Linked DNA regions of Homo sapiens: region 1 is linked to region 2. The links come from fine-mapping of genetic effects on gene expression. A gene starts in region 2. The other region holds a variant in brackets. All regions are shown on one strand. Distances are between the middles of the regions.

Region 1 (4,279 bases), 37 kb after region 2:
TAAAATCCACTCTAATTTACTGGCCCAAATTAAGGCAAACTTTATTTTTTAAATTTATTTAAAATTCCAAGCTTATTAGAATATTCAATCTCTTGCTTTTCTTTCTAGATATGATTAACCTCTCTAATTTTTACTTGCAACATTTACATCTCTTCTAATGTTAATATGAATATGGATGATATCTATACTTTGCCATCTCTGGCATATTCTACATCTCCTTAGAGAAGGAGCCAATACAGAAACATCCTTTTTATTTTTAAAACTATTAACTCACACACTGGAATGTTACAATCCAGAGCCTGTAAATTTTTTAACAAGAAAACAGAATGGCCAATATTAGGCTTTGAATTAAAAAACCTCTCCCTTGGCCAGGTGCAGTGGCTCATGCCTGTAATCCTAGCACTTTGGGAGGCTGAGGCAGGTGGTCTGCCTGAGCTCAGGAGTTCAAGACCAGCCTGGGCAACACGGTGAAACCCTGTCTCTACTAAAATACAAAAAATTACCCGGGTGTGGCAGTGTGCTCCTATAGTCCCAACTACCTGGGAGGCTGAGGCAGGAGAATCACTTGAACCCGAGAGGCGGAGGTTGCAGTGAGCCGGAGGTTACAGTGCACCGAGATCACACTACTGCACTCCAGCCTGGCGACAGAGTGAGACTGCATCTCAAAAAAAAAAAAAACAAAAAAAAAAAACACAAAAAACAAAAAACAAAAAAAACCTCTTCCTTTGCTTCCATCCAAATACAGTCGTGCATCATTTAACAATGGTGATGCATTCTGAGAAATGTGTTGTTAGGCAGTTTCTTCGTGGTGTAAACATCACAGAGTGCACTCACACAAACCTAGAATGGTATGGCCTATTGCTCCAAGACTACAAACCTGTTCAGATGTTACTGTACTGACTTGTAGGCAACAGTAACACAATGGTATGTATTTGTGTATCTAAACATACATAAACATAGAAAAGGTATGGTAAAAATACATTATTATAATCTTATGGAACCACCATCATATATGCAGTCCAAACATCATTATGCAGTGCATGACTGTATCTGCTATTAAGTAAAGTTGATGAACAGTAGAATTGAATAGTTTTATATTTTCTGGGTAGTCTAGTAGGAAGGCACGTAGAACAGTGCTGGGCACCTAAGGCATTCAATAAATATTACTAAATGAAAGGAAAGAAGGGAGAGAGGAAGAGAAAATGGGAAGGAGAAAAGATAAAGGGAGAGAAGGTAGGCCAGAGTTCAATTAAACCTGATTGTAATCCTGTCATTGTTAGGTGTTCCAGAAGAGTTATTTCTCTCTGTAAATGCTTCTACTTTCCCATCTACGTATCTTACATAAAGTCTGTAAGAATTATTTGCTGACTAAAAATGATGACATTTCAAGGAATAATTGTTGATAACAGCCAACCTAGAAACTTTGCCTGTCAGAATGTTGACTTCAATAACAAGCCTGAAGTACTATATGACATTGGCTATTGGTCTTCTAACTTCAGAAAACCAACAGACAGTTTCTGATCAGCATTTTCATACAATCTAAGTAAAGCAATACACATTTAGTCCTTAGAGTGCCTTAAAATTTTACTGCTAAAAATGCATAGTTTCACAATAACTATCTCATTCATTAAAATCAAATGCATATTAATCATCATAAATACACTAACAAGTCTAGAGCAGTCTCTGTTTTATAGTCTGAATTAATGTTGAAACTAAACATCTCATTGAAAAAAGAGCAATTAACCAAATAATTGTAGGAAATAATGAAATATTGTTAGAAGGGAAATTTCATAATTGTTTTTTAGAGATTCATTATAAAAATAATAAAGATTGGGTAATGGATCCACACTTTCAAATTTCTGCTTCTGCAGAACTATGGATCAAAACAAAACTCACTTTTCTTTTTGCTTCTTCAATAAATTCAAAACATTCTGGAAAATAAGACAGGATGTTGGTTTCAGGCAGATCCAATATAGAAATGCTCTTATATGTAAAGTCACTGAGGAAAGCATTTTCAACTCCATATGCAACATTAAGAATATGAGTCACCTTAAAGAGAAAGAAAAAAGATGATTGTTTTAAATCCCATGAATTAGGTTACCTAAAAAGAGACTGGGGTGTTGATATCTATAACAAGAAAGGTAAAAAATTTAAATGCGACTCACTTGAATGATAATACTGCTTCAATCCCACACCAGAAGTGCTCCTTCTACTATATGTTTTCTCTCTCTCTCTCTCTCTTTTAACTTATTATTATCATCATGCAGAGACAGGGTCTCTTTCTGTCACCCAGGCTGGAGTGCAATGATGCAATCATAGGCCACTGCAATCTTGAACTCCTAGGCTCAGGTGATCCTCCTGCCTCAGCCTCCCAAGTAGCTGGGACTACAGGCGTGTACCACCACACCCAGCTAATTTTTTTTTTTTTTTTTTTTTT[C/TTC]AGAGAAGAGGGGGGCGGGTCTCACTTTTTTTGCCCAGGCTGGTCTCGAACTCCTGGCCTCAAGTGATGCTCCCACTTCCGCCTCCCACAGTGCTGGCATTACAGGTATAAGCCACCACACCTGGCCTATATATTTTCATAGCCCTGGACTTGCCCTATTATAGCTCATGCCATTTAGAGATTGTTTTTCTCTTTCACTGCACTAGAAACTCCATGAGGGTAGGGACCATGTTTAACTTAGTGTTATAAGCGAATGAGCAGTGAGTTTAGCAGAAAATGCTTAAAATCTTTGTTGAATTAATCTGTGAATATCCATATAAAAACTTAAATAGGAGAAGTGTATCAGTGGTATACAACTTCCCTTTCAAGAATTATTTCCCTATTTTCCTTCATATTCTTTACTTTATAAAATGGTTCTCCAGGATGACTGCACATTAGAGTCACCTGATGAACTCTTAAAAACTATCAATAACACAGGGTCTCATACCCAGAGATTCTGATGAACCAATCTGGCTGAAAAGTAAGGGGAGGTGTGGTTGTAAAATATTTTCTTTCAGATGGTACACTTGAGCAACCTCCTCCTCTTGCATCTATGTATTTGAGCCCCTTTTCCTAGAGTCCACCAACCATGTGGAAGAAAGCCAGGCAGACAGTCCATTAAGATAATCCAAAGGCTGAGAATCACTTGAACCCAGGAGGTAAAGGTTGCAGTGAGCCACGATCATGCCACTGCACTCCAGCCTGAGCAAATGAGCGAGACTCTGCCTCAAAAAAAAAAAAAAAAAAAAAAAAAAAAAAAAAAAACCTAACAACCTTGTCCACATCTGTACTTCCCCTCTGCCTTCTGATTACAATGAAGGATGTGCTCGTGCATCTTCGATAAGGCTCATTCCAGAACCTGTGCTTGGAGTCACAGTGCTTCCTACTTTCTTGGCATCTCCCTATAGTCATAATTCTTGCTTTTCTGTATCTTCAATTCCTTCTTCTACCATCAGCCTTAAAACATGCTCAAAGCTCTCCCCTCCCCCTCCTCACCTATGGCTCCTCTCTCTCTTTTTTTTTTTCCCTTTGCCATCACTTCCTCACTTCTCAATCTTTTGCAATATGGCTTTGGCCTCCAATTCAAATGAAACTGTTTCCACCAAACGCACTAACAACCTCTCTGTCACCAAGTCCCATGGATATAATTTAGTCCTAATCGTACTTAAACTTTTACAGCATCTGACATTGCTGACTCTCTCCTCCTTAAAACACTATTCTCTTTAGTTTCCATGACACCATCTTTTTGTTTTACCTTCTTTGGGCCTCTTTTAGATCCTCCTTTCCCACTGCGGACTCTTCTTTGTTTGATCATTCCATATAGGGTGATATTCCTCAATTTATCAGTTCTGTGATAAGATTCTGTCATAGGCCCTCTTCTCTCTTACTTTACACTTTTCCCCAGGCAGCTTCATCTATTCTAATGGTTTCAGTAACTACTTAAAAGCTGAAGATTCCTAAATCTATATATTCACCTCTATTCTGAACTTCAGACCCTACATATCCACCCACCTAGATGATCCACATCACCCAAAACCTAACATGTTCAGAACTGAGCACACTGTTTCTCCTTCAAAGCCTGTTCCTTCTACGTTGCTTTCAATCTCATGGAACGATAACTTTACTTAGTTACCAAAGAAAGCTAGACATCAGCCTTGACTCCTCCTTCTCCCTTAGCCCCACTCCCTATCCTGCCTCATAAGTAATCAAATTTTAAGAATTCTACCCTCTAAAAAACCCCTCACATCTATCTAATTCTATCTCCACTAAATCTTAATCTCAGCCATTATCATCTTTTCCTTA
Region 2 (4,253 bases):
AAAATCAAACCAAAAGTCTAAACAAAAGCATATTCTTAACAGATATTCAGAATACCATATTAAACGCAAAGTTTTTGGTAACATTCACTACATTCACTCCCCCTCCCTAAAAGAAAAAAAAATTATAGCAAAATAAAGTAAGAATTGGCTTAAGAAAAGTTCTGATGTATCTGGATACATACAGACACAGTAGAAGGCGCAAGCCTCTAATCCCAGGATTTTGGGAGGCCGAGGCAGGTGGATCGCTCGAGCTCAGTTCGAGACCAGTCTGGACAAAATGGCGAAACCTTGTCTCTACCAAAAATACAATAAGTAGCTGGGAGTGGCGGCACACTGTGGTCCCAGCCCCTGGGAGGCTGAGGTGGGAGGATTGCTTGAGCCCGGAGGGGGAGGTTGCAGTGAGCTGAGACTGCACGACTGCACTCCAGCCCAGGTGACACGGCTGTGTCAAAAAAGAGGAAGGGAGGGAGGGAGAGAGGGAAGAAGGAAGGAAAAGAAAAAAGAAAGCACCAGACAGGAAGGAGGGCACAATGGGCTCTTAATCAGGACTGTCACCAACCACCCCTCAGGCTAAATTTCACTTAAAGCAAACTTAAGGAAAAGATGCTGCATGTCCTCAATTCCATTTCATATTCTGTGCTCCCAAAAGATACGTACTCAGCTAGCAGTTTGTTGAAGTCAACCCTTAGTTTTACTACACCAGTGGGCACCTGGAATATCTGCAAAATGTGGACTTAAACATTAATACTGGCTAATGTCAGATTTCTGGCAAGGCAATATACAGGGATTGGTTTACTCACATTTGTAACCCCAATAAATATGCACTCCAAAATGTTTTTGTTGAATAGAAAAATTTGGAACTGGAAATGAAGAGTTTTTGATCTCTAAAATACATTAAAAATAAATACCAAGACGACATCTATATATAAATTTTAATGCAGAGTATCTGCATTATTGACATTATGCATTTAGTTTTTTTATGACAGACTAAAGTAGTTCAAGTTACTCTATTCTCAAAAAGAACTTATTTTACACCAAACATGGCAAGCATTACATACCCTTCAAATCTAAAGACTCTTTCCACACCATATATATTACATTTGCTCTCTTTTCCAAGCTCAGAAAGTTATAACCTAACTTTTCAGGTAAGTCTCTATGACAGTAAGACGGTTTATTTTCCGTTCTAAAATTTTCGACGATTCTCACAAGTCGCAAAACTCAGCAGGAAAAAAAGAAATCCGCGTGCTGTTAAAGTGGTAGATTTTTTTCAAAGACGACATATTTCAACGAGGCTCCGCAATGAATAATGGGAATGAATCTTTAAAAAAATTCAGATCGTGACTTACTAGAGAAAAATACCTCCTACAATACTTAAGAGTCACTTTCCCCAAATAAAGGCGGGAAATATCGTGCGAACTCCTAGCTTGCTGTTAAGGTCAATATCTCAATGATTACCAACCACACGGTTGATTAAATGTTGCACGATTCAAGCTTCCATTAATAACAAGATTCCTTTGGCAAAGCCCGGGAGAGAGGAGTCAAAACAGGAACTGGAAGCACCGGTGATCAAGAAGCAGTGGACTGCACCCACACACTTCAGGGCACCGCCCACCCACGTGTACCGCGGTCAGTTCCTCCCAGGGATGCTTCTGGGGACCAGCAACCAGCTGGGAATCCAGCAACCAGCATCGCGTCTCGGGTATCAGAAGGAGGTTAAGGTATGGGCCAGTCTAACGTGGCTGGCGTGTGGGGGCACAAACACAGCTCAGTCACCGCCAGACGGCCTTTTCTTCACCCTCCCAGGGCCCTCAGCTTCCCGGCGCCACCTTTGTAGCAGTATGGAGGCGACGCGTCGAGTAGGGGACCGACTATGAACTTGGGGGCACCCAAGGATTCCCTCTCCGCGACTGAAACCAGCAGACGAGAGCCTGACGACTGCCTTTCAGTCTTGCCCGCCTCCAGGCCCAGAGCATGGATGGCAGTGCCAGCAAGGAAAAGCAATATTTCACTCACCTAACGCGGGCCCCTGAGGTTCCACTGCAAAGGCTGCCATTGCGTCGGCAACTACACTTAAAACCAGTACCTTCCCAATTAATTTTCAAAAATGGCGGAAACGCTCCCCACGGGTAACGGCGTGCTACCTTATGGGGTTGCGTAACTTCCGGACCTGCGCTATGCTTAAGTTGTAGGCGCCGGAGCCATTTTGGAATAGGGCAAAGTCTTTGCGCTGAGAATTTCCGAGGAAAGGGTTTTTGCACCGGGAAGGTGGCGAACCAGCGTATGGTTCTGTGAATGCTTTTCATCCGGGAATGCTTCCTGATTTGTGGGTACTTAAGTTACATAGAAGCACAGATTATTTTACTCACGGTTTCATAATTAGCGTGAGTTGACCCAGTGCTCTATCATCGGTCAGCTTTTCTGAGTAGCACCTGGAAAAGTCAGCTTGATGAAAACAGTTGGTGCCTCTTTGCAATGTCGATTTCTGGACTTAGTACATGACGCTTTTTCCTCAAAGCATGTTTTCTACTATCCGTATGCCATTTCTTTTAAATTTTGTGTTATGTAGACAATTTTACATTAAAGCGTAACTCATACGCCGTTTTGTTGCATATTAAAACATACAAAAATATAGCTAACGAACGCATAAAGTACACATGTAAATAATGGAAGATAATTATACGCACCCACGAACCCTCCACACCGCGGAATCTTGCGTGCTTCTGCATGTGCCATCCCTGCCGTCCACGTCCCCTCACTTTGCTGCTTTTCTTTAGGGCATAGTCATACGTAAATCACATACACATATTCTGCATATGTGTGTGTAAAAATATATTGTTTAGTTTTGCTCAAATACTAACTTTATAAAATAATGTGCTACATATGTATAACTGGGGACGTTCTCTGCTCCATACCATGAGGATTATTTCCAAAATATCCACCCATGCTCAGCTATTTCTTCTAGGACTTCCTAAAATCTCAAATGGAGGAAGAATTTTGTCTTTGGAATGAGGCAGTAACAATTCCAGAATTAAATGGTAGGTTCACAGAAATCAAATTTTAAAACCACTCACAGATCGAATTGACTTTTTGAAAATGGGTGTGTGAATTGAATTGTGTCCCTCAAAAATTTATGTTCAAGTCCTAACCCTCATACTTATGAATATGACCTTATTTGGAAATCGGGTCTTTGCAGATGTAATAAAGTTCAGATAAAGTCACATTGGAGTACCACAAGCTCGGTTAACTAAACCAGCACAAATGTATCTCTTACAGTTCTGGAGGCCAAAAATCCAAAATGAGTATTGTAGGGCTAAAATCAAAGTACCAGAAGGACTATTTTCTTCTGGAGGCTCCAGGGGAGAATCTATTACCTTGCTTTTTCAAGCTTCTAGAAGCCACTTATATTTCTTAGCTTGTGCCACCTTCCTGCTTTTTCAAAGCCAACGATGTAGCATCTTTGGTCTGTCTGACACTGCTTTGTTCAGCTTCTGCCATCACATAGCCTTGTGATGACATTTAGGACCCACCCAGGTAATCCAGGATAATCTTACTATTTCAATATTCAGTAGAGGTGATTAAGTTAATAATCACATCTTCAAAATACCTTTTGCCATATAAGGTAACATTCACAGATTCTAAAGCTTAGTGTATGGATATCTTTGGGGAGTAGTCAGCCCACAACACAGGGCAATCCACTTTTTAGAATTAAGCTACCAAGAAAGGTATATCAATGTATAAATTTCTACACACATTGAGGCTAGATGTGGTGGCTCACACCTGCAATCCCAGCACCTTGGGAGGCTGAGGGGTTGATCACTTGAGTCCAGGAGTTTGAGATAGTGAGACCCCACTTCTCTACAAAATAAAAAAGAAATTTCTATACAAATTATGATCTAGCCAAACAAAAGAACACTATACAACAACTAAAATGAATTAGATGGATTTGATATGAGTGTAAATATTAACCTAGAAAGACCTCTGTGATAGATATAATGAAAAAAAGTAATTTGAAAACATGCATGCATATACGGCACCATTTTTATTTAATAACGGGTTTATTTAGGAACAGATGCAGAGAAAGAGAAAAGAGTGATACTTCTTTAAATAAAAGAAGATGTTGAAAAAGATTTGCACCAGCCGGGCATGGTGGCTCATGCCTGTAATCCCAGCACTTTGGGAGGCCAAGGCGGGCGGATCACGAGGTCAGGAGTTCCAGACCAGCCTGGCCAACATGGTGAAACCCCATCTCTACT

Evidence for each region. PIP is the estimated chance that this variant, and not a neighbour inherited with it, causes the effect.
Region 1: its variant is the best candidate, but not a certain one, in a credible set for the expression of NUP35 in iPS cells (HipSci, PIP 0.55).

What each region holds. Positions count from the first base shown.
Region 1 is chr2:183,084,810-183,089,088 of GRCh38, reverse strand. It overlaps DUSP19 (dual specificity phosphatase 19), which reads right to left. Exons shown (of 4, transcript NM_080876.4): 3 at 1,897-2,049. Among named protein-coding and RNA genes, the nearest start is that of DUSP19, 8.2 kb to the right of the region's middle. The variant C/TTC (reference allele first, on the strand shown) is at 2,438.
Region 2 is chr2:183,122,258-183,126,510 of GRCh38, reverse strand. It overlaps NUP35 (nucleoporin 35), which reads right to left and starts at 2,068. Exons shown (of 9, transcript NM_138285.5): 1 at 2,014-2,068. The coding sequence starts at 2,053. It overlaps LOC124907917 (a long non-coding RNA gene), which reads left to right and starts at 1,554. Exons shown (of 2, transcript XR_007087331.1): 1 at 1,554-1,718; 2 at 1,804-2,594. RefSeq lists an enhancer at 1,250-2,018.